3 separate regions of the Homo sapiens genome follow, and all the other regions are linked to region 3. Evidence: fine-mapped expression QTL. A gene starts in region 3. Each other region holds a variant in brackets. All regions are shown on one strand. Distances are between the middles of the regions. Region 1 overlaps ZNF286A-TBC1D26 (ZNF286A-TBC1D26 readthrough (NMD candidate)). Region 2 holds the start of LOC124903932 (a long non-coding RNA gene). Region 3 holds the start of ZNF286A (zinc finger protein 286A).

Region 1 (10,355 bases), 27 kb before region 3:
TCAAGGCCCCCACTCCAGGACACAGGGAGGGACAGTCGGCCTCAGGCTCTGGGTGCCCAGCTTCATGCTCGCCCCCAAAAGCCCTCTGTGCTCACCTCAAAGGGGGCAGTGAGGTGGCCTGGCACTGCCTGGACATGATGTCTCGGCCTATTCCTGAGCCGCAGAGCCAGAGGAACGGGGGGACGTTTGTCAGACCAGGCACCCCGTTTTGCTGGGTCTCCCAGGGTTCTTCCTGCGGAGGCTGGATCCAGAGGCGCAGCACCGAGGCTGCAGGGTGACCGGCCCAGAACCCTCGAGACTGGGCTGGGGACCACATGAGAACTGTCCCCAGATGGCCAGAAGACCCTTTGCTAATTTCCCGGTACCTCATTTCCCACCAGCTACCCTTGCCCCACCAGGAATCCCCTTCTGGCAGAGTCAATGAGGAGAGGAAGATGGTCACAGAATCCATGGAAAGAAAGAAAACAAAATGACAATGGAACATCATCTATTTCCTGTCCATCTGAAAGGAAAGCCTAAGGAAGCCTATTGGGTTCCATCACCCTGAGGGCCCCGAGGATGGCATCACACAGTGCAATACCCAATGGCAGGGGCGGTGCTCCATCCCTGCAGACGTCATCGAGAGCACACCTGGGGTCGTCTAGGGTCATGGACCTGGCCACAGAGCAGAAACTGGGTCAACAGGAGTGCACACACGCACACAGGTGCACACTCACACACTGGAATAAAACGAATTTCGTAGCAAGTGGTCACGTGCGCGTGGGAGCGCGCGCACACACACACACACACACACACACACCACACTTGTTGCTGATCTGCTGACTTATCTCACTGCCATGAAACAGCAGCTAAGCCTGTAATTGCTCTGCCTTTCCTTGGATTTTTCCTTTAGTTTCTCTGACTGCTGGGTTACTGGCCTGTGTTTAGCTTCATGAACATGGGTTTCACTTTATTTTTATGGGGTTCCAGCTCTTGCTCATGGAATCCCTCCCTGCCTGTTCTGCAGTCTTCCCTTGTTTACTGCCTGTGGACTTCAAGTATCAGACACAGAGAAAGATTTGTAGATACTGTTTACTCAGCCCCCACAATTTCCATAGCAGGTCTCTTAATTCCCATCACCTCCAGGGAGGGTCATTGCTGGGATCCTAGGAATCAAGTGCCTTGTCTTGATGGCCACAGTGGTAACCATAATAGTCAGGTTTTCCCTCTGTGCAATTCTGGAACATAAAAATCTTCTCTGGTAACAAGACTACAGAAAGCAATGAAAGCAACACTAAACTGGGAGTTTGCTGGCCTGTGTTTCTAAGAAATTTAATGTTTTTACATAAATAATGAAGAAGAAACGACTTTTCTAAAGTTCCTGTCATTTATGCCATGGATTGGACTCTTCTGTGAAAGCAGTTTTATTGATGGATGTGGATAATTAGCTTAACTTCAAGTAAAAGATTAGAGAGCAAATTGTAAACATAACTGTGCTTTTTTACACTCAAATGACATTAATCAGACAGTTTTGGATCTCTAGAAATATATATTAGAACATGTAAGTTCTATATTGAAATACGCAAGTTTGGAATCCTTCAGGTGGCTTATTTTTCATCAACTAGAAATAATACTAAAATTGCAAAGATTTATTATGATTTATATTATTTGTCCTAATGGAAAAAGGAATTCAAATATGTTTATTAAAGTATAATATACACAGGAATCCTATTATTCTACTACTCAGTGATTTATCACAAAGAGGACACATGCTTGGAGCTACCACACAGTCCAAGAAAATGAAATAAAAATAACAATCTGGAAATCCCTCTCCTGAAGGTCTGCTCCCTAACCACTGCCCACCTGTCTTGTCAAAGCAAAGAGTCACCTGGTTTTTAGCAGCCCCAATTAGTGTTGTCTGTTTCATAAATGGAAGCATGGAGGGCCATTCAGTAGGAATGGTTTTGTGTGTGGCTTCTTTGGCCCAGCATTACATTTGTGACACTCCTTCAAGTGGTTTCATGAAGCAGTTCATTTTTTTTTTTTTTTTTTGAGATGGAGTTTCGCTCTGTCGGCCAGGCTGGAGTGCAGTGATGCGATCTCGGCTCACTGCAAGCTCTGCCTCCCAGGTTCACACCATTCTCCTGCCTCAGCCTCCCGAGTAGCTGGGACTTACAGGCGCTTGCCACCATGCCCAGGTAATTTTTTTGTATTTGTAGCAGAGATGAGGTTTCACTGTGTTAGCCAGGATGGTCTCAATCTCCTGACCTAGTGATCCATCCGCCTCAGCCTCCCAAAGTGCTGGGATTACAGGCGTGAGCCACCGTGCCCGGCCCAAGCAGTTCATTTCTTTTCCCTGCTCGGTGGTGCTCTGCATGAATATGGCACATCTATCAATTCTACTGTTGATGGACATTGGTTTGTTTCCATTTTGGGACTACTAGCAATAAAGCCACTATGAACATTCTTGTTAATTTCTTTTGGTACACATGTATAGATATTTTAGTTAAGTACAGCCCTACAAATAAAATAGCTTGGTCATGGTAACTGCATATGTTCAAATGCAACGCATGTCACTAAAAATGTCAGCTAGGAGGAAAAGCTCAAGAGCTCTATTGTACAACATGTTGACTACAGTTAATAACAATGTGGTAATACTTGAAATTTTTGAGACAGCAGATTTTAAATGTTCTCACCACAAAAAAAAAAGATAAGTATCTGAGGTAACTGATATGCTAGGTAGCTTGATTTAGCCATTCTACAATGTCTGTCTGTTGCTATACATATATATACACAGATTTAGCTATTCTACAATGTGTGTGTGTGTGTGTGTATGTAAAATGTGGTATAGCATAAATACATACAATTTATCAATTAAATTTTAATTCCAAAGATTTTTTTGACTAATATATAACCCAACCACAAGTTTGAGAGTTCTAATTAGATGTCCTTTCCAACACCTGATTTTGTCAGTCTTCCTTTTACATATTCTGGTTAGTGGATAATGTTATTTCGTTTTCATTTATTTTGGTCTTCTGATTATTAAAAGGCCTGATACCACTTTCATAAATGTTTATTGAAAATGTATATAATCAGGCTGGGCACGGTGGCTCATGCTTGTAATCCCAGTACTTTGGGAGGCCGAGGTGGGCGGATCTCTTGAGGTCCGGAGTTCGAGACCAGCCTGGCTAACATGATGAAACCCCGTCTCTATTAAAAATACAAAAAAAAATTAGCTCGCCATGGTGGCAGGCGCCTGTAATCCCAGCTACTCGGGAGGTTGAGGTGGGAGAATTGCTGGAAACCGGGAGGCAGATGTTGCAGTGAGCCAAGAACGTGCCACTGCACTCCAGCGCGGGGGACAAGAGCGAAACTCGCATGGTGGTGCGTACGCCTGTAATCCCAGCTACCCAGGAGGCTGAGGCAGGAGAATCGCTTGAACCCGGTAGGCAGGTTGCAGTGAGCCGAGATTGCGCCATTGCACTCCAGCCTGTGCTTCAAGAGCGAAACTCCGTCTCAAAAAAACAACAAAAAAAGAAAATGTATATAATCATATTTTCAGGGGTCTATGCAATTTTTTATACTTTTTCCAATGTGGTTATCAATCTTTCTAAATGATCTTCGAGAAGTTTTTAAAAATAAATTCTTGACATAAATTTTTGGGATTTTGTCAGTTAAAGGTGGAAATATCTTCTCTTTAAGAAAGAGCTTGGCTGGGCGTGGTGGCTCACGCCTGTAATCCCAGCATTTTGGGAGGCCGAGGCGGGCTGATCACGAGGTCAGATCGAGACCATCGTGGCAAACACGGTGAAACTCCATCTCTACTAAAAACTACAAAAAAAAATTAGCCGGGCATGGTGGCGGGCGCCTGTAGACCCAGCTACAGGCTGAGACAGGAGGCAGGAGAGGAGGCTGAGACAGGAGAATGACGTGAGCCCGGGAGGCGGAGCTTGCAGTGAGCGGAGATCGCACTCCAGCCTGGGCGACAGAGCCAGACTCAGTCTCAAAAAAAAAAAAAAAAAGAAAGAAAGAAAGAAAAGGAAAAAACAAAGAGCTTATTAGGCCGGGCACGGTGGCTCACGCCTATAATCCTAGCACTTTGGGAGGCCGAGGCCGGCGGATCACGAGGGCAGGAGATTGAGACCATCCTGGCTAACATGGTGAAACTCTGTCTCTGCTAAAAATACAAAAAATCAGCCGGGCGTGGTGGCAGGCGCCTGTAATCGCAGCTACTAGGGAGGCTGGGGCAGGAGAATCGCTTGAACCCAGGAGTTGGAGGTTGCACTGAGCCGAGATGGTGCCACTGCACTCCAGCCTGGACTACAGAGCAAGACTCCGTCTCAAAAAAAAAAAAATAAATAAAATAAAATAAAAAGAGCTTATTAATGGATAATCATTGGAGATGTTAAGTTTTAGGTAAGATAGAAAAAAGGGTCTTTTAACATAGTTGTATTATATATATTTTTGCCTTGTATTTTCATGTTACAGAATGGGTCTAACTTTGGGTCAATATATGTGTTCACTTAATTTTTTTCTAAATTTGGAAGTAACCTGAAATTTACACAAAGACTGCAATAGAATTACAAAGGATAGCCAGGTTCCTCTTAGACTGACACACAGTTAACGTTTAATCCTGCTTGTTTTATCATTTGCTCTTTCTATACACAAATTTTTCTTGAATCATTTCAATTTCATACATTACTCTTCTTTACCTCTAAATACTTCAATATGCATTTCTCAATAATGAGGATATTATTAATACTTTACACAACCATGATACAGTTATCAACTGCAGTAAATTTAACATCAATACATTACTTTTATCTATTCTGTTGCTTGTATTCCAGTTTTGAAAAATTGAACCAATAATGTCTTTAGGAGATTTTCTCTCACACAAGACCTAGTCAAAGATCCTGTATTGTATTTGGTTGTCATGATGCTTTAGTCTCTTTTAATTTGGAAGTTATTCAGCTTTTCCTTGTCTTATGTGACATTAATATTTTTGAAGAATGCAGTCCTTTTAATAGTCCTCATTTTGGAGTTTGTCAAATATTTCCTCATGATTAGATTCCCATTATGCATTCCCAGCCAGAATAGTACACACATTATGCTGTGTCCTTCTCATGGTATCACATCTGAGGCACAGAATGGCCATGTGCTGCTTACTCATATTAATTTTGATCATGTAATCAAAGTTTTTGCCAGTTCTTCCACTATATAATTATTTTTTGCCTTGCAATTGCTAATCATAACAAGCAATCTCTGGAAAAGATACTTCAATTCTATGCAAATATCCTGTTCCTCATCAAAATTTCCCCTTAGATTTAGCATCCATTGATTCTTGCTTGAATCAGTCTTTACTGTTATGGCTACAAAATGATAGTTTTCCAGCTCCAACATTCCCTTCGCATTTACCCATTGGCATAGGATATTCTGCGGTAAGCAAGTGTCCTCTGT[TA/A]TCGCTCATTTATTTACTTATTATCAATGTGAACTCATGGACTACTACTTCTTCAATGGTTTACAATTCATCATTTTCTTGTTTTGCTGCTCAAATTGTTCCGGATTTAGTCAGTGAGGGCTACTTCCTGTGTCTTTGTGACCTACCCTCATCATTTTTTTGAGTGCTACTTTTTTTTTTTTCTGGAATAAGATGTTCCAGGATCTTCTTGGAGTTTCCTTCCCTCAGACCTGCAATCAGCCATTTTTCTGAGGAGCCTTAGTTCCTTTTAGCAGAGAACGGTATCAGAAACCAAGATCTGGGCTCATTGCAACTGAGATGTCATTGCTTTTAGCCCGTTTCAGTAGACAGAGCTAGGAAATGTGTGTGCTAAGAAGGTATAAAAGGGATGTGTGGCTGCAGGAGGTCATTTTATGTGTGTTTGTGAGTTTTGCTCATCTGCTAAGTTGCCTGTCTAATGTAGAGAGTTCTGATTATCTACATCCCAGTTAATTTCTTTGGTTAGCAAATTTGTGATTAATATGAGTGGCTGGGAGGCTGTATGAAAACAATAGCGGCAACGAAACTGTGCAGAAAAGTTAACATAGCAAGTCCGAGCCTGCTATCTTTAGAAAGACTTGCCTACGAGGTTGGCCACAGGCGGGCATCTGGGAAGGATAACTTTGGGATCGTTCCCGCTAATTCCAGAATTAAAGTGGATCACTGCTCCTAAACTGTCTGTAAAAACAATGAAGCTTATGCTGAACACCTGCTTTCCTTCTGGAAGTCTGGAGTTTTGGTACATGCTAGACAGAGACTGCCTATGTGACTAGCACCCAGTACAAACCTTAGGATTTGAATCTCTACTGAGCTTCCCTGATAGATCACATTTCACACATGCTGTCACAACTCCTTGCTGTGGGAAATGAGCAAGTCTTGTGTGACTTCGCTGGGAGGGGACTCGGGGAAGCTTGTTCCTTGTTTCCTCCAGACCTTGCCGCCCCATGAGCCTTTTCTCTTTACTGGTTTTGCTGTGTGTCCTTTTACTATAATAAACCACAGCCAAGAAAATGACAACATGCTGAGTCCTGGGAATCCTTCTAGTGAATCATTGAACCTGGGGGTGGTCTTGGGGATCCCTAAACATGTAGAAAGAAAATGTTATGTTTTTGTTTATCAAAAGAAAACAGGACTATTTTTCTCTTAGAGTGAAATGTGTGGTTGTTGCAGAATGCAAAAGATAGTTAAAGCATAAAACTGGAGAGGATGCTGTAAGTTTTGGAAGGTTTGGGGGAAAGTGAACTTTACTTGTGCTTTATAATAGCTGCGAATTCTGAAAAGAAGAAATAAAATGTATTAAAATTTTGACAAAAGTTGGCTTGATTTTGATGAGTTCATTAAAATCTATAAATCTTTAATTCAAAATATTATATTTAAAAAGATTAAACTTCGGTTATCTTTGCTTAAATGATAGTTTGTTCAACAAGAGAAAGGGAAAGATCATTCTTTACCTTCTGTGTAATCTGCCCAATAGTAGAAATTGTCTCTCATCAGAACTACAGTTTTGTGCTTTGTTCTGTGTTATGCTTTTCATTTTATATATATATATATATATATATATATATATATATATATATATATATATATGAACAAAGCCAAAACAGACCCTTATCTTGGAGCTTATGATATGGCATTCATAAACAGGAAAATGTAAGAAATACTTGGGTTTGTTTGGTATGTCCTATAGTTATTAATTAGTTCAAAATGATTGTAAGAGCTGCTCTGTTTATGGGAAGAGGTGTCAGACCAAAGAGAAGGGAAACCTTCCCTAGTTTAATTTTGTATAGATATGTTACTAAAACAAATGTTTCAGAAACTGTATACTTACTTATGTTTGGAAGGCCCTGGAGATGTCCACACTGTATATAATGCATTCTTACTCTCAGGGGAACACTGATCAACTCCTCTTTGAAATAATCATGTCTTATACTCCAATAAAGGATTTTACTCTCCTTCATTCTGATAGTTATTATAATAAATTATAAAGCGTTAATTATAAATTCAGATGGAATTAAATGGTGCTGAGATAGCAAGAGAATGAGCTGATGACATCTTCTGAATATCTGAATCCAGTCATATCTGAAGCCAGATCTCACCATGGGTTTTTAAAAATTATAGTCCTGGGCCGGGCGTGGTGGCTCACGCCTGTAATCCCAGCACTTTGGGAGGCTTAGGCGGGCGGATCACGAAGTCAGGAGATCGAGACCATCCTGGCTAGCACGGTGAAACCCCATCTCTACTAAAAATGCAAAAAATCAGCCAGGCGTGGTGGCGGGCGCCTGTAGTCACAGTTACTTGGGAGGCTGAGGCAGGAGAATAGCATGAACCTGGGAGGTGGAGCTTGCAGTGAGCCAAGATCGCGCCACTGCACTCCAGCCTGGGTGACAGAGCGAGACTCTGTCTCAAAAAAAAAAAAAAAAAAAAAATTACAGTCCTGGATAACCCAGCAGGTTTGAGTCACTACAACATGAGATGCATAGGTCACGAGACTGGGAATTGAATCAACCATACATAAAACTATGTTTTTGATATGGCAAAAGTAATATTTATGGTGGTGGCTGCCCTATACCATCTCGGGTCCCTAAGTGACTACTGATGAGCAAAGATTCCCTGCCAGGCCACAAAGGACAGGTAGCACAAGTTAGCATTAAGAAATGGCACCCTGGTGAGAGGTCCATGCTTTTTGTATACTAGAGCCTGGTCTCAAAGAATAGAAAATTATCATCAAAATATAACTCAGCAATGTGCAACAAAGCCCTTTCACATATATAATTTCACATAACCCTCACAGAAACTCTATGAAATCAATGTTGGAAATACTTTCTTAGTTTTTTTTTTTTTTTTTTTTTTTGAGATGGAGTCTCGCTGTGTCACCCAGTCTGGAGTGCAGTGGCACGATCTTGGCTCACTGCAAGCTCTGCCTCCCAGGTTCACGTCATTCTCCTGCCTCAGCCTCCCGAGTAGCTGGGACTACAGGCGCCCGCCACCATGCCTGGCTAATTTTTTTGTTATTTTTAGTAGAGACGGGGTTTCACCGTGTTGCCAGGATGGTCTCAATCTCCTGACCTCGTGATCTGTCCGCCTTGGCCTCCCAAAGTGCTGAGATTACAGGCATGAGCTACTGCACCCAACTTTCTTAGGTTTTAAACTTCTGTCAATGTTATCACTGTTTGATCTTTGAAAAACTGCTCTTGTGGGGGGGAATAGATGGGGAGCAGGAGGCCAGATAGTCTTATTCATGCTGAAGTTAACTTCCAATAGCAGTGTTTGTTTTACCTGCACAGCATCTTTGGATTTATTTGAGGGAAGCACCCTGTCCCCACCCACAGTGCAAGTTGCATCAATGGGATGGACTCCACCCTCTCTTCCTCCAGGGTTTTACACAGACTCAAGCCTGGTCGATGAGAGGACCCCATTTCCAGGGTGGTATTATAAAAGGTTCAGTGATCAGCACGACTCAAGCAAAGTGGAGAAGTAGCCTCAGGGATTTTGCTGGAGCTATTTGGAAAGAGGTACTTTCCTTGGAATTGTGAATGCCAAGAACCGTAATATAACTTCCAAGTGCCAGTAGGCTATTTGTCGCTGCAAGAGACTAAGAAAAGCACATCCAACAGAGAGGAAGCCAGAGCAGAGATGGAGGCGGACAGTCCTCGATCTATTAATAGCAAAGCATTTATCTCTAGTTTGACTCCATGGATTGCCCCAGATATGTGAACTTTGCTGACATGATGATTACGTGTTTCATGAATTGGTGGGAGTGGGAGGGAGGTGAAGCATGCACCTTTTTTGTATAGTTCACTCAATCTAAGGGATTTATAAACAGAGGTTACATCATGAAAAAAATAAAAAACAATTCAGTAAAAACATCTAATTTTTTGAGGTTTATAAGTGGAAACTACACAGTAGGACCAGATGCCACATTTTATATATATTACTACAGGGAATAGCCTTCTACCTTGTCAATGAAACTTATGGAGAGGGACAGCTCATATGGCTATGGGTCCCAAGACTGCCTAGTTGGGGCCCAGAAAGAATTACACAAGGAAGGGAAGAAAGCAGGCTTCCAACTTGAGTCATCTTCTGATAAACACATTTTTTTTTTTTGAGACAGAGTCTTGGTCTGTCATCAGGCTGGAGTGCAGTGACTCAATCTCGGCTCACTGCAACCTGCATCTCCTGGGTTCAAGCGATTCTCCTGCCTCAGCCTCCCTAGTAGCCACCACGCCCAGCTAATTTTTGTATGTTTAGTAGAGACAGGGTTTCACCATGTTGGCCAGGATGGTCTCGATCTCTTGACCTCATGATCCACCCGCCTCAGCCTCCCAAAGTGCTGGGATTACAGGCGTGAGCCACCGCGCCCAACCGATAAACACATATTTTTAAAAGTGAGAACACATCTAAGAAAATAAAAACTATGACAAATTTTCAATAGATAATTGATCTAGTTAATTGCCAATCAATTTGAATATTTAGTATTCTTACATTATCACTTTTATACTTTTGGGTGATATTACATTGTCTTCCCCCAAACCAGATATAATTGAAAAGTTACACAAAATAAGATTTTTATGACATTTTACCTAATTTTTTTTTTTTTTTTTTTTGAGATGGAGTTTCGCTCTTGTTGTCCAGGCTGGAGTGCAATGGCACTATCTTGGCTCACTGCAACCTCTGCCTCCCGGGTTCAAGTGATTCTCCTGACTCAGCCTCCCGAGTAGCTGGGATTACAGCCATGTGTCACCATGCCTGGCTAATTTTGTATTTTTAGTAGAGATGGGGTTTCTCCATGTTGGTCAGGCTGGTCTCGAGCTCCTGACCTCAGGTGATCTGCCTCCCTCAGCCTCCCAAAGTGCTGGGATTACAGGCTTGAACCACCGCA
Region 2 (10,355 bases), 410 kb after region 3:
TGTCTTAGTCTGTTTGTGTTGTCTGAGACTGGGTAATTGATAAAGAAAGAGATTTATGTAGCTCACAGTTCTAAAGGCTGTAAGAAGCACGGTGCCAGTATCTGCTTCTGGTGAGGGCTTCAGGAAGCTTCCACTCATGGCAGAAGAGGAAGGGGAACCGGTGTGTCCCATGATGAGAGATGGAGCAAGAGAGAGAAAAGAAGATGCCAGGCTCTTTTCAACAAGCAATTCTCTTGGGAACTAAGAATGACACGTTACCCACTCCTGAGAGAATGGCACCAAGCCATTCATGAGGGATCCGTCCCTATGACCCAAACACCTCTCACCAGGCCCACCTCCAACAATGGGGATCAAATTTCAGCAGGAGACTTGGCCAGACCAAACAAACCATATCCAAACCACAGGAGGCGGGGAGCAAGGTTAAGGAATGTGTGCAAGGCGCCCCCAGTCACACTTGAAGTGAAGTGTGTACAGGCAGCACACATGCAGGAAAAGCAAGAAGGCAGAGAAGTTCCCAGCAGGAAAGTCAGAGGAGGTCCAGGGTAGCTAGTGGAGAGAGGGTACCAAGGTGGGTGTGCTGAGGGGCAACATTATATAAGGGAGGTGCGGGAGGCTGAAGATCAGAAATAGAGTTGAAGGACAAGAAGGAGGTCACTGATAACTTTTAATAGTTCTCTTTGGGGAGTGCAGTGTACCCAGATAACACAGGAATTTAAGGGAAAGAGGAGCACGTTCCATGGCAGCAGGGGCGGATCGGCAGTGAAAGGAAGGAGAGAAAAGCAGCAATCAGAGAGACAATGAAGTCAATGTGAGTTGCTTTGACACAGAGAAAGCTGTTCATGTGTGCAGGCTTGCAGAGGGCAAGAAAGTAAAGCATGTATAATACAGCATATATTATCTTCTAGTGATAGATGAAATACTTCATAATAACTTTGAAGTTATTTTTAAGGTAAGATTTCTCTCATTATCTTTAAAAAAACTTTTCATCCATTTTCACTTGATTATTATTCCAGAAGCAGTATTTTTAAACTATAGTAATTATGACTGGGATAGACAGACAGATCAATGAAATAGAAAGTCCAAAAATAGGCGCACATGTGTGTGTGGATCCAATAAAATCCACGGTTCATAACGATGAAGAAAAGGATGGATGACCTAATAACTGGCTTTTTGGAAAAAAAATTAGAGTGTAATTTCATTTGATATGCTAATATAAATTTCAGATGATCATGGACTTTAAAAAGTCATGAAAGTACTAAAAAGTAAATTTAATGTTAATCTAAGCATATCAAAAACATAGAATCCTAGCTCACAATTGTAGGCCATTCAGACCGAAGGAAATTTTAGGTGGCTCTTTCAGAAATCACCTGACGAAGAACTAAATAGAATATGGTGAGAAACTGTTCTGTACTCCCTGCATCCATCTGAACATTTAGAAGTGCAGTAAGAGTGTATTAAACTCAAAAGCTGGAAGGTAGCAGTGAATGGTTCCTAACACACTTTTTATTTGAATTGGGCTTTGGAATTTTTCAAATTCCATGGCATCCTTCAGTTACAGTTTTGAAGTATTGTGTACCCAACAACATGCCACTACTCTCTTCCTCTAGTAATTGAAGAAAATCATCAAATATCTGAAAGGAGTCAAATTCTTAGCAATTAAGTCATCTGCATCCAGCGTCCATCTCTAACAATCCTCATGAATTGCCAAATACATTGCTAAGATATTCCACGTGCCACATGGACAAATCACTTGATATTATTTAAAGGGCCTTAACTGATATTATCAGTGCCACGTAGTAATAATGCCTTAAAAAACACACGCACACACTCATAGCTGGCTGTGGCAGCTCACGCCGGTAATACCAGCACTTTGGGAGGCCAAGGTGAGTGGATCACTTGAGCCCAGGAGCTCAAGACCAGCCTGAGCAACAAAGTGAGATCCCCATCTCTACAGTAAATAAACAAACAACAACAACAAAAACCTCACAACCACTCATTCCTACTTTGAAATCCTCATTTGGGTACCCCTTATCCTAACAGTCTGTGTGGAAAATAAATTTTATATTCTGCCAATACCTTCACACTATGCACTCAGAAGGTATATATACACCAAATAGGCATTGCTTCGTTTTAATTTCCAATCTGAATGTACTTCCTTCATTATTGCATCACAATTAATATGTATAATGTTGAATACCAAGTAGTGAGAAGACTGACATTGAAAAACAACTTTTTTTTTTTTGAGATGGAGTCTCGTTCTGTCATCAGGCTGGAGTGCAGTGGCATGATCTCGGCTCACTGCAACCTTCACCTCCCGGGTTCAAGTGATTCTCCTGCCTCAGCCTCCCAAGTAACTGGGATTACAGGTACGTGCCACCACGCCAGGCTAATTTTTTGTATTTTTAGTAGAGACAGGGTTTCACCTTGTTAGCCACGATGGTCTCGATCTCCTGACCTCGTGATATGCACGCCTTGACCTCCCAAAGTGCTGGGATTACAGGCATGAGCCACTGCGCCCGGCCGAGAAGCAACTTCTTTTATTGTCACGGCATCTCCTTTCCTCAGTGCCTACGTAGCTAGTTTCCATGTATCCTGATTTCAACACACATTTTCCAGTCCTTACCATGACTCACACCATAATTGTTAACTAAAACAAACACCTCGTCTTTTGTAACGTAAGTTTCCAACAGGAAAACACCACCAGCCATTTTTTTCCTTGAATATATATCACTCTTAGTCCAAGAGTGAGTTCCAAATTTGCTATATCAGTGGTTTAATCCAACCATAAACCAAAAGCAAACACAAGTATGTGACGTTGCTCATTGTATGCTGTGCATACGCACTTTATATGCTATTAATACTCTGCCTCATCCAACTTATGTCTAATGGTTAAAGAGTTCTGTCAGTCACTACGTATCACTCAGAGTGGACTAAGTTATGCTGCAGTAACAAATGACCTCCAAATCTTACTCAGACAAGTTCATACCTAGCACAGATCTCCTGAAGGCTCTGCTGCTTGCCTTCCACACTCTGGGACCCAGGCTGGCGGAGCCGCCATTACTGGAACAGTGCCAAGTTGTCATGGCGGCAAGGGGAGAGACAGCATGGTACATGGCAGACCAACTCTTCAAGCTGTGTTTCCACTCTCATTTCCTGAAGCCGGTTATAGGGTCATGTGTCACTTTATGGGCAGCAGAGAGATGCAATCTCTTGATGAGCTAGAGAAACGTAGTGAACAGCACAAATGATTTCCACAAGCGTATGCTGTTTCCTTTCTGAGCAGAAATGTTCAAAAACTAATGAAACTGGTTTTACAAACTTTGGGGGATTATTTTGACCTAAACCTGTGTGTGCTTTGGAGAAGGATTTGAGTGTTGACTGTGTGCCTCTTTAGATAGAAATATTAAGTTTAAAACTAGAAAAGCAATATTTTGTGTTTGTTTTAGGATTTTAAAAATCTCAGTGGGCATATTAAAAAAGGCCACTGTTGAAAAATGATGCAAAATCTTCACATCTCTGTTCAACAATGTTTCTAAACAGATAAATCATTGCAGAGTAGAAGCAGATTCCTTAGTCCAGGGAAATCCAATTTAAAAATTTAACTCTGCAGTTGACGTTATTTGTAGGAAACATATTTGCCTGTCCTTGTTCTAGAATATGCAGATTTATAGTCTATATTTGAACTAGACTGGAGTCATCTCTCTTTTTTATATTTATGATGTTATTTTGAGCAGCAATATTTATATTACTATTTTCATTACAGTTTTATTCTTTAACAGACCAGTTTTGAATCAGTGATTCTTTTTTGTAAACTGAGAATTTAACCCAACAGAATAGTGAAAACAAAATACAGAAACTTTTTTTTAAAAAGAAATTATTTGCAAAGAAAATAAAACTGTGCTAAATGAATTAAGGGAGACTTTATTGTAGAGAATGCATATATTTGACAAAAAGTTGATTTTAAAATACATCAATTTTTTTCTACAATGTTCAACAGAAAATGTTTTCCCACTGGGCAAGTGGGTCAGGAAGGCATATACCAGGAAATTAAATTTAGAATATCTCTGAGTAAAGTATTTAGAGGGGAAGTAGTTATGTGTCCCAGAGATCCTGTATTGTGAAAAAATATAAGCAAAACTCCACATCCCTAGAGATAGATCATGCATAGGACCTTACCTTTTTGATTCTCAGAAAATGAGGTATAATCTGAAAAGGTGAAAACTTGAAATCTCCGGAGAACCAGATTTTTTTCTCTGTGCAATCAATGTCCCTCTCAATACCCCTAACTACATTTTCCCACTTTGTGCAAGAGCTACCTCAATCATTTAATTGACCTTCCTTCCCTTTTAACTTTCTATCTATTTCTATGGCACCAATAGAGGTTTGGAGGCCATTCTCTCTTTCTGCTGCTGGAATATATACAAAACTCTCATTAAGCAACAGAGAAACACTTTCACTTTATCACTCAGGATTGCGATAACTGGCCTGCTTCAGGAAGCCACTGTAAACACCAGAAAAGGTGGGTGGCACATGAGCACTGGCTCTGACTCCATGGCCCTGTTTGCCTGTAGAACCAATGAATGTCAAGTTTTGATGAGTTGCACAGTCCCTTCTGCTGCCCGAGAGAGGACCCTGGAGGAGGAAAGAGAGGGAAAGGCTGCATATGTTCTCTTCACCATTCCTCTAGATGGGAGAGAGAGCAAAATCTACTCTTCTATGGGCCAAAATATGAAAAGACAGAGAAAAGTATTTCTTCTAGTAGACACTAGTGTTAGTGACTCAGAAGACAGTGGCAGCAGTGAACAGCTTGGACGTGGTGCTGGGCTTACATCCAAGGGGCAGCA[A/G]CTCCACAGTCAACAAAAACTGGATAAGTTGGACGACATGGAAATTAGCAATTCTTGTGCATTAAGGGGCATGACAGACTGAAAAGCAACCCAGGGAGTGGGAGAAAATATCTACAAGTCATATATCTGATCAGAGGTTAATATCAAGAATCTATAGAGAACTCCTACAACTCAACAACAACAAAAAACAGAAACAACCCAATTAAAAAGATCCAGGAAAGTTGTGGAGGACATGGCTGGGAAGGAATACTGGGGCATATGGTGGAGTAATTCAAACTTGAATGACCAGTCCATGAAGGGGCATTAAAGGATGGAGCTGTGCTTTGGGAAGACACTTTGAGCTGTTCTGGGTGGGATCTATGGAAAAAGGGAGGGCTCAGGGGGGCAGGAGAGTTAGGTATGGGTGAGATATGGTTTGGCAGAAATTGCGTTTGGCTAAGAGACAGACTGCAGAGAAATAGAATTCTTATGAATAAAGAGGAAACCAGGAACTCCAAGCTGCCCTGGAAGGATGATCTATTTTTGGGGAGGGGAAGCCAGACTTTCTTTGAAATTTTCCTTCCTTTGGAGATCCTCTATTAATTGTTAAGGTCCCACCACACTTTCTGTGTAGCAGAGTGTTGAGTTGAATTGTGTCCCACAAAATTCATATGTTGAAGTCCTAACCCTCAGTACCTTGGAATGTGACTGTATTTGGAGATAGGACTTTTAAAGAGGCAATTAAAGGAAACTGAGGTCATATGGGTGGGACCTAATCCAGTATGATGATTGTCCTTATAAGACCAGGAGCTAGGACAGACACATGCAGCGGGAAGGCCACATGAAGGCACAGGGAGGAGACGACCATCTGCAGGCCAGGGAGAGAGGCCCAGAGGAAACCAGCCCTGCTGACTCCTTGATCTTGAACTCTAGCCTCCGGAATTGTGAGAAAACAAATTTCTGTTGTTTGTGCCACCCAATTTGTGGTACTTCGTTATGTCAGCCCTAGCAAACTCATACAGGGTGTATAAAAAATGACCCTTTTGATGTCTTATAGCATGGTTGTGGGAAGACATTTAAAATAGGCTTTTGGGTCAGACACAGTGGCTCATGCCTATTATCTCAGCACTTTGGGAGGCCAAGGTGGCTTGAGCCTAGGAGTTTGAGACCAGCTTGGGCAACATAGCGAGATTCTGTCTCTACCAAAAATTTAAAAATTAGCCTGAAGTGTTGGTACGCACCTGTAGTCCCGGCTATTTGGGATGCTGAAGAAGGAGGATCATTTGAGCCCAAGAGTTTGAGGCTGCAATGAGCTATGATCATGCCATTGCACTTCAGCCTGGGTGACAGAGTGAGACCCTGTCTCTAAAAAATAAAATAAAATAAAATAAAATAAAATAAAATAAAATAAAACAGAATAAAATAAAATAGGTTTTTGTAAAAGTTGAGAGACAGCAACAGGGAACCAAACTCACAAACTAAGATAAAACTAACAACCCATCTCAGGCATAAAAGGGTCTGTCCAGGGATGGAAGCCTTTGGGTCCCCCTACCCCTCTATGCCTACAAGGGGGAAGCCCTACAGTATGGCCGTGGGTATTTTGCTATGGAATCTTATGCTCACATGTGCTGAGACCAGAGCTGGCATGCACAACCACAAGTGGCCTGTGCCTGGAATTTGTGACCAAGAAAGGAGGCATAGAACCCAGGTGTCACAACCACAGAATTCTCCAGAAACCGGTCTGTACATCCAGGGACTTCAAATGGCCATAGTGTCCCCATGTGCATGCTGGGAGGGCTGTGCTGAGCCGAAGTATCTGTAATCATTTGGGTGAGAACTGTGTTTTGATGTCCCTGTGCTCCGGCCCCTGCGTGCAGCCAAACAGGCAGGTGCCATCCCATCATCTGCACGTAGAGAGTAGCGATGGTGAGAAAAATTATAGGAATGCTTTCTGGCAAAGACTAATCCTCCAAGATGCTCCAGGAAAATAGTTTTGGATGCAGGAATTGCCAGGTCTGGATAAACATAGTTCAGTCCCTCAGATGTTTGATGTTTTGAACATGACTAAATGTTCGGCTGCATGGCCCTTCATCTGAAGCCTTCAAATAGTTCACATTAAATCCTGATCCTGTCCCAGACAGCGGCCAGTGAAGAGTTATCAGATCCACTGCTCTAGTAACCAAACACCTTGGAGGGTTTATCCTTCAGAGATAAAAGTGAACCAGTGAGAAAGTTAAAGTTTCATACTGAGCTGCTGGAACCACACTGTGCTTACACAGGAGGGTCCAATTCCAGTCTTCTTTGCTAATAAAGTTTCTTTGTACTGGGATCCTCATTTTCCTGATGTTTAAAACAGAAAAAAAGTCATGCCTCAGTATCTGCAGGGATTGATTCTAGGACCTCCTGTGTATACCAAAATCTGAAGATGCTCAAGTCCCTTATATAAAAGGGTATAGTATTCACATACAACCTATACACATCCTCCAGTACACTTTAAATCACCTTTAGATGACTCAAAATACCCAGTGAAATGTAAATGCTATGTAAATAGTTGTTATCCTATATTTTTATTTGTATTACTTATTGTTGTATTGGTTTATTTTATTTTATTTCTTCCTGAACATTTTAATCTCTAGTTGGTTTAATCTGTGGATGTGGAACCCATTGATATGGTGGAGGGCCAAGTGTGATAATAGAAATGTGTCTTGGCATGCATGGCCTCTAAGTATTTTATCAGTTTGAAAAGCAAAAACGGATTGACTTTGCCACAGTAAAGCTCTGGAAGTCCCTGCACATAATAAGCATTCAGGAAGCCTCAGGGGTGATGGTGGTAAAATGATAATGTCCTGATAGCTCTTCCAAGAGGTGTTTATCCCTGCACTAGGGATTCTTGAGACATTCTATGATACTACTATGCTGCACTCTTTCTTGTTTTCTAGTCTTGAAGTCTAAGTGGCAGAATGACACTAGATGAGCCATTAGGTTAGAAATTTAAAACGTTTGAAGCAACATAAACAAGTGAGTTGTCAAACAGCTGAAAATGATGTTTTAACAGCCAAAATGTGACAAATATAAACACAGGGTCATCAAAGTACAGGCATTCTAGTAATACATAGAGGTTTGGAGATTTGTACGTTTTTCTTATTGTGCTTTTATTCATTCATTCAGCAAATACCTGTTTTATGCCAGAGATTGTAATTAGGCAGAGGAATAAAAAATTGTAAGACAAGTCCCAGCCTTCGATGGGCTCCATATATATAGCCTAGAAGGAGGAGTCCAGTAAAGAAATAAATGAAGAAATAAATTCAATAAAGTATAATTAGATCCATAACAACTCGATTTGGTATTCATGATGTCAGCAGTCCGTGAGCAGTCATGCAGGTCTGTGACGTGCAGTAATTTTAATTCTGCTGAGGCACAGAATGAACTGATGAGCTGAGAATAATAAGCAGAAACAAGGCACCAAACAAAAAGAGACCAGCTGACTTCTCGTTGCCCGTGTCTCAGAGATGCATGGTTCTCCATGGTAGCCACCAGCACAGCTGCCTTCTTGTGATAAAATACTTTCTCAGTATTGTCTGGGAGAAACAATCTTGATACAAAAGCCAGATGCTATTGATGATGGAAATGAGGAAAAATTAAATTCTTCTAAGGAAGCAATTGCTCTTATCCAGAAAACAGAAGCATTTTGAGAGGAAGAATAATGCTGTATTAGACACCACCATGGAAAATCATGAAGTGCTCAGAATGTAGCCCTCATGAATAGGATAAGCTTTATTCCATGTACCTTGTGCAATGGTAGGTGAAATATGTCAGGAGAAGATTCATAAAGGAGATGGTCTTGGATCAGATTCTTGGAAGATAAGTCACGTGCTAACCCTCTGACTAAGGTCAAGTGTTAATAAACTGCCTGACCTGTTTGGAAAATACAGGTTGAAAAACCAAAGGGACTTGTGTTTCTGGCCAAGATGGAGTGATAAGGACTGGACTGACTCTCTGGCCAGAAACAACAGCAAAACAAACAAACAAATATCAGACAAAATGTACAGAACAACGGTTTTCAAGACACTGGACATTGAACAACAAAGAACAGTGATCTCTGAGAGACAAGAAATGAATGAGATGAATCCTATAATAGCCTCAGCTCACACCACTGAGTTTCCAGTTCATGACACAAGGAGGAGAAATCCAGGAAGAGCCCAGTGAATTCCCTGAGTTGAGGAGAAAGAACTGAGTTTGGGCAGTCTAAGGATGCTAGGGGTCATAGGACTAAAGTACCAAAGAGGGGAGAGAGAGAGAGAGAGAGACCTTGAAAACTCAATAGAGTACTGATTGGTCCACTTGTGTAAGAACAAAAACAATGTGAGACCCAGGGAAAGGACCAGTCAAAAGAATTTGAGGGAACAATACTTTGTGTTCACACAAGGGTGGAAGTAATACCTGTTTCCACCATCCAAACTGGAAAAACTCATAATTAAGTAGGCTAGTCAGAAAGGTCTTGATTCAGTAGTGGGCAATAATTAGCTCTAGACCTGCCTAACAAATCTCAAAAGCAAAATCAGAAAGGATCAAACTGTTTCCAAGTAATTTAACTGTACCATAAAACAAAGCTCAAAAATATTTGTAGGAAGACAAAAATATCCAGCACCCAACAAGGTGAAATTCACACTGTCTAGCATCTGATCAATATAACCAGATGTGCCAAGAAATAGGAAAAATGACCCACAATGAGAAGAAAATCAATCAAGTGAAACAAACCCATAGCTTACACAGATGTCAGAATTAGCAGACAAGCACATTAAAGTGGTTATTATAACTGAATTCAAGTTGAAAAAGTTAGGTAGAGATGTGAAATGTATGTAACCAGAAATCAAACCTATAGAAATAAAAATGACAACATCTGAGATGAAAAATACATGGGATGAGATTAATGACAGATTAGACCTTGCAGAAGAAAAGGTAAGTGAACTAGAAGACATAGCAATGAAAATTATCCCAAGTGAAACACACAGAAAATAAAATAATTTTATAAAAATGAGGCCAGGTGCCATGGCTCCCAGCATTTTGGGAGGCCGAGGTGTGGGGATTACCTGAGGACAGGAGTTTGAGACCAGCCTGGTCAACTTGGTGAAACTCCGTCTCCACTAAAAATACAAAAATTAGCAGGGTGTGGTGGTGCACACCTGTGATCCCAGCTACTCGGGAGGTTGAGGAGGGAGGACTGGTTGAGTCTGGGAGGCAGAGGTTACAGTGAGCTGAAATGGTGCCACTGCACTCCAGCCTGGATGACAGAGTGACAGTCCATCTCAAAAAAAAAAAAAAAAAGAAAAGAGCATCAGTGCCCCATGGAACAACCTTAAGTTGATTGTGTGTGTGTGTGTGTGTGTGTGTGTGTGTGTGTGTGTAGGCAGCCCTTAAAGGAGGAGAGAAAAGAAAGGAGTTGACAGAAGAAAACATTTGAAGAATGAATGCAATGTTTTTCAAATTTGATGACAATGAAACACAGGTCCAAGAAATTCAATGAAACGGATG
Region 3 (10,355 bases):
ACCCTAACCCCGAGTCTGCACTCAACGAGGAGGCGGGCCGCCTGCTCTTGGAGAACTCCGAGGAGTATGCGGCTCGGGCCCGTCTGCTCACAGAGATCCACGGGGGCGCCGGCGGGCCCAGCGGCAGGGCCGAAGCCGGGCGGGCCCTGGCCAGTGGCACTGCAGCTTCCTCCACCGACCCTGGGGCCCCAGGGGGCCTGGGAGGGGCTGAGGGTCCCATGGCCAAGAAGCATGCTGGCGAGCGCGATAAGAAGCTGGCGGCCAAGAAAAAGACGGACAAGAAGCGGGCGCTGCGGCGGCTGTAGTGGGCTCTCTTCCTCCTTCCACCGTGACCCCAACCTCTCCTGTCCCCTCCCTCCAACTCTGTCTCTAAGTTATTTAAATTATGGCTGGGGTCGGGGAGGGTACAGGGGGCACTGGGACCTGGATTTGTTTTTCTAAATAAAGTTGGAAAAGCAAAAAAAAAAAAATAATAATAATAATAAGAGAATTATTCCCTTAAGATAAAATAATATGTAAAAATCACTAAGTAGCCCCTAAGTAGAAAAGACATTATGAGGAAAAATGAACCTTAGCCTAGAATCTGCATATACATAACTAAATCCACATTCAGTGGAGATTAAGTGCCCAAAAATTAGAAGAAAAAGCCAGAACAACAAAAATGCAAACCATTGCACAAACAGCAGGAAAACTACAAAAGAGGAAACAATAAAGCACAGGAAACAGAATTATAAAAATCACATGGCAATAAAAGTTTGAAACACATGTATTATATGTGAATGAGCAAATTTCCCTTATAAAAAGGTTTTTTTAAAAAGCCACATCCTATATACAGAATAGGCCATCCAAACAAAATATTATTGCTGGGTTGGGTACTGGTAGGTAGATGGAAGGAAATATAGTATACCATATGTCTGAATACAGTAGTGCAAGTACAACAAAAAATGTGAAAAAATATACATAGTAGAGAGAGGCAGGGACTGAATTTGAGGGGGAAGTAGCATTACCTTTACATTTCTGTATGTCTGTGTTGTTCACTTTATTACATTGAAGAACTAAAACTTTTAATATTTTTAAAAATCTAACAAATCAAAGGTAAAAAATAGCCCAGGCAAATTCTAACAAGAAAAAAAGCTCCAATATTGCATTTTTAAAATCTAATAAAATGCACAAAGAACAAAGAGAGTTTTAAAAATTTTCCATAATAGGTTCAATCACCTTGATGCTGTTAACAGTGTTGAATCTGATATCAAAGTATTGAAATATATATTCACGCTTCTGGTACCAGTGCCCTAATTTTCCCCTAGCTACTATGCCTGGCCACTTTGAATCTGTGTAGCTCAGGTAGTACTGACGCCATCTCTGATTCATGGGTGGGATGTTTGTGCGTGCACGCGCATGTGTATGTGCGTGTGTGTGTAGGTATATTCTATAAAGAATTACACTTAAATTTGGCCAATATCTCATCCAGGAATGGGCCTAATACCCCATTAGAGTCAATCCCAGCACTTCTGCAAGAATGACTAGAAGAGAATCTGCCCTTTTTCTCTGGCCTTCAACACAGGAAGATGTAAGCCTAAACTCGTTAGAGGCCAACACTAGGAGAAAAACTTGTTTGGCCATAAAACCCATGGAGAGAAAAGGTCAGTAAAATGAAGAATTAGGTTTTAACATTCTTGTTTGAGCCCTATATGTAGCCAGACCTAGATTTTTCAGTTTGTTAGTCAATAGTTACTTCTTTTCACTTAGACCCATTTGAATTGACTTTATCAGCTGCAACTTAAAGCTTCTTGACTAATAAAGTCTTCAAGACTAATGTAAGACAGTTGAGAAGCCAATGGAGACAGGCAAGTACATAAAGGAAGTGACTTTTACAAACACTATGAACGTGCAGTATCTACTTTTTACACCTTGGATTACAGAAGCAAAGAGAAAGGCTGATTGAGGAATCTCTGGGTTGTGGTATGCCACACACATCATGGAAAGCTCCTTTTTTCCTCCTCAACTTCTTTTTTTTTTTTTTTTTGAGACAGTTTCACTCTCACCCAGGCTGGAGTGCAGTAGCCCTATCTGGGCTCACTGCAACCTCTGCCTCCTGGGTTCAAGTGATTCTCATGCCTCAGTCTCCGGAGTAGCTGGGATTACAAGTGCGCACCACCAAGCCCAGCTAATTTTTGTATTTTAAGTAAAGACGAGGTTTCACCATGTTGGTCAGGCTGGTCTTGAACTCCTGACCTCAGGTGATCTGCCCGCCTCAGCCTCTCAAAGTGCTGGGATTACAGGCATGAGCCACCGTGCCCAGCCCTAACTTCTTTTAATAAAAGTTTCAAACATACAAAAGTTGAAAGATGAATGCAATAATCACTGATATAGTACAATCACCGCCTAAATTCAAAAATTCTTTTTTTTTTTTTTTGAGACAGAGTTTCCCTCATTGCCCAGGCTGGAATGCAGTGGTGCGATCTCGGATTACTGCAACCTCCACCTCCTAGGTTCAAGTGATTCTCCTGCCCCAGCCTCCAGACTAGCTGGGACTACAGGTGCGTGCCACCATGCCTGGCTAATTTTTTGTGTTTTTAGTAGAGACGGGGTTTCACCGTGTTAGCAAGGATGGTCTCAATCTCCTCACCTAGTCATCTACCTGCCTTGGCCTCCCAAAGTGCTGGAATTACAGGCATGAGCCACCACGCCCAGCCAAACATTCGTAATATTTGTCATATTTACCTTTTGGGAGAGAGGGGCCAACAATATAAAAGTAAGTTGCAGACATGATCATACCTTAGCTTTCATCATCTCAGAGGGCTGGATTCTAACTGTAACTCTTTAAATTACGCCTTCATAGGCTTTCCTTTTCCAGTATTTCTTTGAACTATGTGAGTATTTATTATTTTTACAATCACTTCAGCATTTAAGTGCTTTCTTAGATTGCCACTTAAGGTCACATACATGCTGTTTCCTCTAGAGAAACAAGTTTTAAGAGGTATGTACCACATTATATTTAAAATAGTTTCTCACATTACCAAGCACAGAAATGAGCATAGGAGGCTAAGAAAGGGAAATGCTGCTTACCTATCTGTTGAGGGACAATAAACACTAAATAGGGAAGAAATCCATCCAGTGTTATAAGTAGAAAACATTTTCTTCTGAGTCCATTAGTCTCCTGACTAGTCTCTTAGATTTAGAACTCAGCTCTGCAGATGGGCTTTAGTGGATAAAGAAACTCCACATCACAAAGAAGGGAGTGCATCTGTACTCTAAGAAACAAGGTGTAATTCCAATAATCAGCACTCACTCACCTGGGATCTGGCCGTGAGGCGCAGAGCAGCCACTTCTCCCTCTTCTGTGCTCTTCTCTTGGAAATGGGGAGAATCCTGGGAAGACAGAGCTAACGACAAGAAAGCAGTAATGATGAGACCTAGGCTTAACGTGCCACTCAGATTTAAAGTCTAAAAACCACTTCAACATACTATATGTGCTGCCTACAAACACTGAGACTGAAGGTACCCCCAAAACAACCGACCTCCTCCCAGGACCCTCTTCCCGGGATATGCGGGAATATTGCTACTCTGGGCTCGAATTCAGTTGCTATAATCATAACACATTCTGTAAGATGGCATCCTCTGATCTAGAAATTAGAATATGTCAGTAAATTTCCCAGTTTAATCTATACTCGTTGGTTCTCACTCTGAAAGCTTATTTATAATGTAGATTGCTGGACCCCACCTCAAAGTAATAAGCATTAGTTGAGCCTGGGGTACAATCCAGAAATCTAACAACCACCCCAGGGGGAATTCTGGTGTAGGAGGTCACAGCACAACCTTCATGAAACTGGTCAGGTAGAATGGAAGTCAGTCATTAACTACTACGCCTGTTTTCTCCTATGTAAAACAAAACATTTTTGACAACCAAAGAGGTGAATTCTTGCCATAGAAGTTAACATTTCACTCACATTTTGGGGGTAGCTTTGAAGGGTCCACTGTGTGCCCAGCTGCCATGGAAAGGGCGGTGCTCCCATACCAAGCCCTTCAGTCTCACTTAAAAAGCCCATCCATCCCCAAGACAATGGAGACAGCCAGCCAAGAGCCACCTCCCCTGAGCCAACCGTTTTCCCTTCAGGAGCAGGAATTTCGTCCTTCCACGCTACAAGTTCAACACGTCCGCAATTCTCACCTCCTTTCTCAGGCATTTCAGCCAAATCTGTCTCCATGATCACCACCTCCTCCTTGTTCTGGAGATTCTGCTCTTCACCCCAATTCAGATCTCCCTGGCCAGACGAGTTAGAAGCCCCCCGGGCCTCGTGGTCCCACTTCCTGCCTTCCCTCCTGGGCTCTGATGAAAGGCCTGGGTTAGATCGGGTCTCTTTCTCACCGTGGAGTCTGCCTCAGTCCTACGGCGCTGGAGCCTGGAAGCCCGGGGACAGCATCCCTGAGGCTGGGTCCTCAGATGTCTGTCCCTACCGCTTGAAGCTGTCCCTGGGGGAACCGGGCACCTGGAAGAGGTGACGCTGGGGCATCAGGAGTTTGGACAAATTCTGCCGCGCTCGGGGCACTGGCCCAGAACCCCGCGACCACCCCGCCCGTGGCACAACCGCGTCCCCCGAGGAGAGGATCAGGCCAGAGTGAGAAGGGACAGGGCTCATGGTCTGCCCTCGAGGCCCCTTTAACAAACGCGCACTCTAGCCCCGACTCGGCACAGAACGACCCGGGGAACCACCGCCGAGGCCGAGCCGAGACGAGCGACATCACCACAAGCAACTCACCTCCCATCCCGGGCCTCACAAAGGGGACGAACTTCTTTGGCCAGCTCGGAGTCGCGCATGCGTAAGAAGGAGCGGAGCCAGGCGTGCTGCCCTCATCCCGCCCGGAACTACAATTCCCAGAAGCGCCTTGGCATCGCCAGACTCCGGTTCTCCGCAGGTGGGAGCACCCGTGGTGCGGCTGGGAGAATCGGACGATCGAAGAGCTCCGTCCGTCTCGCGAGAGTATGAGGCAGCATCTCCTGTGTCTAATCCTCAGAGCAAGGGAGGGAGGGAGCAGCGGAGACGCGGACCGGAGTCAGGGTCCGTCCCCGCGCTTTGTCTGCACAAGTTCCTGCGGCACAGTGCTTAGGGCTGCTGAGTTCAACCCAAATTACTCCGGTGTAAGATACGTTAAAATACATAGCTTTTATCCATATTTTGTGCGCCCAGAACTCATCCTTTTGCTTTCAAAACATACGAAGGATGTTTTTAGGAAGAGCAGGTCCCTCTTTGTACACTCAGTCAGATGTTCCTGTATCCACAGACTACTTGTAATCCTAAAATTCATGTATTTAAAATGAGTTGAAAAGATTGAACCTGTTGTAACAAATTTAAGCAATAGGTTCTTTGCAGACATAAGCATTAGTTTAAACATATCATAAAAGGTGGTTCTTTCAAGGGAGAGTTATTCAGTCTCTCCAATTCTGTTAGAGGACTAACCCATCCACCTCCAGCTTCGTGTCTAGACTGCCCTCCTTTTCTCAGTGAATGACATTACTGCCCACTCACTCATTTGCACAAACCAGAGCCTGAATATTCTTAACTCTTTGATCTCACCATCTATTTATCACCAAGTCCTATTCATTGTATCTTAAATAACTCAATTGTTTCCATCTTTCTCTATTCTCAGTAGCATTACCTTAGTTGGGGCCACCACCATTTCACTAGGATTGCCGTTGCAGCCTGGTAACTGGATTCCCTAACTAAGGTTTTCTCTACCACCAATCTGTTCTCCACACTTTCTGGCTAGTGCTCTTTCTAAAACAAGAATATGCTATTACTTTAGTGCTTCAAACCGTTCAGTGGCTTTTAGAAACTTCAAGGAAAGATGATTTCCAGCTCCCAGAAGGGATTTGTAACTCCCATTATCTCAGCCACCTGGTAGTTACACCTTTGTGCAATCCCCTCTTGTGTATGGACTGGGACTTGCTTCTAACCAATACAGTGCAATAAAGGTGACATAAAAGTCTAACGTGTGTCTTGCTAGGAGACTCCTCTCTTGCTGGCTTTGATGAAGTGGTGGTGATGTTGGGGAGGCCCATATGACAAGGAACTGAGGATGGCCTCCAGCCAATAGCCTGCAAGAACCGAAGGCCCTTGGTCCCACAACCTGCAAGGAGCTGAACCCTTTGGACAGCTCTGTGTGCTTGGAAGTGAATCATTGTTTGTAGAGTCTTCCCATGAGAACCCTGTCTTGCCTGACATCTTGATAGCTGGCTGCAAAGGACTCACTTAAGCTGTGCTCAGACTCTCACCCATAGAAACTATGAGATAATAAACATGTGCTATTTTGGACCACTGAGTATGTGGTCATATTGTTATGCAGGAAAATTTAACTAATTCCACTTTCTAACATAAAACAGGATCTTCTTTGTCAAAATCCAATCTGGGAATTGTCTGGAAGAGGGAAATTGTTGGATTGAGCAACTATTGAAAAGTTTATTTGAAACCCACAGGAAGACAAATGGCTACAGTCGGTCCTAGGAGGTGTGTGGCCTGTACACATACTTTTAAAAAGCTATCCTAAGAATGATAAAGGAGGAGACAGGAAATATCAAGCAAGAACTTGTCATAAAAATAAAAACAACGAAACTGTGTGTCAAAATATGATGGTTAATACTAGATTGGATAGCAGAATGTGTAAAATTGAAAAGTGAATATCTACAATATTCTAGTGAAGCTACAATATCAGGCTAGGGAACTCTACACTTCCAGAAGATACCAGGAAGGGAGAAAAAGTTGAAAAATACGAAAGAAATATTAAGCAGTATGGAAGCTGACTAGACTTTATGAGAATCCATAAGGAAAGAAAAACAGAGAGGAGGAACTATTTTAAGAAATAATCAAGAATTATGGAAAAATAAAAAATTAAAGACTTCATATTGAAATTATTGATAGAGAGTCAAACAAAATTATGAAAAGACACCACATATTACGGTGAAATCTAACGAAGAAATTCTAAAGCCTACCAGAAACAAAACATAGATCACCTACAAAAGAAAACAATCACAATTAAAAAAAAAATCCTCAGTGTTAAAAACAGTGCCTGGAATAGTACCAGGTAGTGCCAGATCTCCATCAGCCTGGACAGTGGGAACTAACTGGTGCATTCCCCACACTTACCTTCCAGTGGGTTGCTGTTGAGAGAACCTGAAAAAACCTAAACCTCAGCCGGGTGCAGTGGCTCATGCCTGTAATCCCAGCACTTTGGGAGGCTGAGGCGGGCGGATCACAAGGTCAGGAGATCGAGACCATCCTGGCTAACACGGTGAAACCCCGTCTCTACTAAAAATACAAAATATTAGCCGGGTGTGGTGGCAGGCGCCTGTAGTCCCAGCTACTCAGGAGGCTGAGGCAGGAGAGTGGCGTGAACCTGGGAGGTAGAGCTTGCAGTGAGCTGAGATCGCGCCACTGCACTCCAGCCTGGGGACAGAGTGAGACCCCGTCTCAAAAAAAAAAACAAAAAAAAAACCCTACACCTCTACAGCAGGTCGAATTCATGACCTGAAGCTGAATACTTCCAGCATATTTTTCCCAGTAGATAGGAATAAAGTATCTTTGCAGTGCTCTGTTCCCTCCGTCTCCCTAAACATCTGACACCCTAAAAGCCATCCAGCAGCTATGGACCCTGAGCGACACGTTGATTTGTGTTGTCACCTGACCAAGCCTAAAGACCTCCAGCTCAGTCCCCGACCTTCATCCCACCCCCCAGATGATAAAATTCAGACCTCTCTCCTGAAAGGCAGAGGTTAAACATTCAGGACTGTTTCTGGCCGAGGACTTCTTCCAATTAAAACCCCCACCGTGGGCTGTCTCCCCTCATTTCATTTTTCTAAAGGGGCAGAGGCCTCTTTTAGAAAATAATAAAATTCAATGTGTGTGATTTACTTTTCTGATCTCTTTGAGAAATACAGGAATATAAAAGTATGTTCTTAATTCCAGAACACTCTTTTTGCATAAATACCTCATTGGGCAGCTTTCTAAGTGTGATTTTCCTGAGTCTCCCTTCGTTGGATCTGCCGGAAGACGAGTCAGGGAACCTTTAGTGAGGGTACTTCTTCCTATTTTTCTTCTGTTTTTGGAGGCATACACATTATGCATAACCAAAACAATGGCTCAATTGTGTTTAACTTTGTATTTTGATTGTTGAGAAGAAAAAAAGGTATCGACGTGAAAAAAAAAACAGTGCCTGGCATTTTGTGGCTTCTCAACAAATAATAATTACATAAATAAATCTGATTTGTCAATAGCAGGACTGATTACAAGAAGAAAATGTAATATTGATAAATAATATTTGTACATATTTATGGGGTACATGTGATATTTTGATACATGCAAAATACATGTAATAATCAAGTCAGGGCATTTGGGATATTCATCACCTTCAATATTTATCATTTCTTTGTGTTGGGGAAATTTGAAATGTTCTTTTCTAGTGATTTTAAAATATACGATATATTGTTGTTAACTGTGTTATTAAAGATTCTAACTTATTCTTTCTATCTAACTGTGTGTTTGTACCTGTTAATCAACCCCTTTTCATCACCCTCCACACCCTTCTCAGCCTCTGGTAATCATCATTCTATTCTCTACCTCCATAAGATGAACTTTATTGGCTGCCACATATGACTGAGAACATGCAGTACTTGTCTTTTTATGCCTGGCTTATTTCACTTAACATGATGACCTTCAGTTACATCCATCTTGCTGCAAATGATAGTATTTCATTTTTTATTATGGCCAAATAGTGTTGCATTATGTATATATATCACATTTTCTTTATCCAGTCATCCATTGATGGACACTTAAGTTGCTATTGTGAATATGGCTGCAATAAACATGGAAGTGCAGGTATCCCTGTGATATACTCATTTCCTTTCCTTTGGATAAACACTCAGTCATGGGATTGCTGAATCATATGGTAGTTCTATTTTCAGTTTTTAGGCCGGGTGTGGTGGCTCACGCCTATAATCCCAGCATTTTGGGAGGTTAAGGTGGGTGGATCACTTGAGGTCACGAGTTCAAGACCAGCCTGGCCAATATGGTGAAACTCCATCTCTACTAAAAATACAAAAAAGAAAACATTGGCCAGGTGCAGTGGCTCACATAATCCCAGCACTTTGGGAGGCTGAGGTGGGTGGATCACTTAAGGTCAGGAGTTTAAGATCAGCCTGACCAACGTGGCAAAACCCTGTCTCTACTAAAAATACAAAAATTAGCCAGGCATGGTGGCACATGCCTGTAATCCCAGCTACTCGGGAGGCTGAGGCAGGAGAATTGCTTGAACCCGGGAGGCAGAGGTTGCAGTGAGCCCGGATTGTGCCACTGCACTCCAGCCTGGGTGACAGAGTGAGACTCTGTCTCAAAATAATAATAATGATAATAAACAAACAAAAAACAGAACAAAAAAAACTATCTGGGCATAGTGGCATGCACCTGTAATCGCAGCTACTCAGGAGGCTGAGGCAGGAGAATCGCTTGAACCTGGGAGGGGGAGGCTGCAGAGAGCCAAGATCATGCCACTGCACTCCAGCCTGGGAGATAGAGCGAGACTCCATCTCAAAAGAAAAAAAAAGGCTGGGTGTGGTGGCTCACGCCTGTAATCCCAGCACTTTGGGAGGCCGAGGTAGGCGGATTACCTGAGGTCAAGAGTTTGAGACCAGCCTGGCCAACATGGTGAAACCCCATCTCTACTAAAAATACAAAAATTAGCCGGGCGTGGTGGCACACACCTGTAATCCCAGCTACTCGGGAGGCTGAGGCAGGAGAATTGCTTGAGCCCGGGAGGCGGAGGTTGCAGTGAGCTGAGATCATGCCACTGCACTCCATCCTGGCCAACAGAGTGAGACTCTGTCTCCAAAAAAAAAAAAAAGAAAAGAAAAGAAAGAAAAAAAATAGTTTTGCTGTATATAGTACCCTGGGCCGATCAGCATAAAAAAATACACGTTCACAACCATAAAAAATGGATGGGAGGTGGGGAAGAAACAGGTGTGGGTTTTAATAAATTAGGTACAAGCACCAGGAGAATAAAAATAGGATGTAAAATATTCAAAGTGACTGGCCGGTGCATGGCTCACGCCTGTAATCCCAGCACTTTGGGAGGCCAAGGCAGGTGTATCACCTGAGGTTGGGAGTTTGAGACCAGCCTGACCAACATGCAGAAACCCCGTCTCTACTAAAAATGCAAAACTAGCCAGGCATGGTGGTGCATGCCTGTAATCCCAGCTACTTGGAAGGCTGAGATAGGAGAATCACTTGAACCTGGGAGGCAGAGGTTGCAGTGAGCCAAGATCATGCCACTGCACTCCAGCCTGGGCAACAGAGTGAGACTCCATCT

What was found.
Region 1: its variant is fine-mapped to the expression of ZNF286A in whole blood (INTERVAL, PIP above 0.99).
Region 2: its variant is fine-mapped to the expression of ZNF286A in hippocampus (GTEx, PIP 0.95).

Annotation. Positions count from the first base shown.
Region 1 is chr17:15,721,123-15,731,477 of GRCh38, reverse strand. All of the region lies in intron 6 of ZNF286A-TBC1D26 (ZNF286A-TBC1D26 readthrough (NMD candidate)), which reads right to left. It overlaps TBC1D26-AS1 (TBC1D26 antisense RNA 1), which reads left to right. Exons shown (of 5, transcript XR_001753084.3): 5 at 381-451. Among named protein-coding and RNA genes, the nearest start is that of TBC1D26, 6.0 kb to the left of the region's middle. The variant TA/A (reference allele first, on the strand shown) is at 5,437.
Region 2 is chr17:15,282,191-15,292,545 of GRCh38, reverse strand. It overlaps LOC124903932 (a long non-coding RNA gene), which reads right to left and starts at 3,283. Exons shown (of 3, transcript XR_007065634.1): 1 at 2,987-3,283. The variant A/G (reference allele first, on the strand shown) is at 4,845.
Region 3 is chr17:15,694,182-15,704,536 of GRCh38, reverse strand. It overlaps ZNF286A (zinc finger protein 286A), which reads right to left and starts at 4,785. Exons shown (of 6, transcript NM_001130842.2): 1 at 4,760-4,785; 2 at 4,171-4,402; 3 at 3,297-3,385. The coding sequence starts at 4,207. It overlaps ZNF286A-TBC1D26 (ZNF286A-TBC1D26 readthrough (NMD candidate)), which reads right to left and starts at 4,785. Exons shown (of 23, transcript NR_171000.1): 1 at 4,760-4,785; 2 at 4,171-4,489; 3 at 3,297-3,385. It also overlaps the pseudogene UBE2SP1. RefSeq lists enhancers at 4,662-4,981, 4,992-5,041, 4,477-5,088.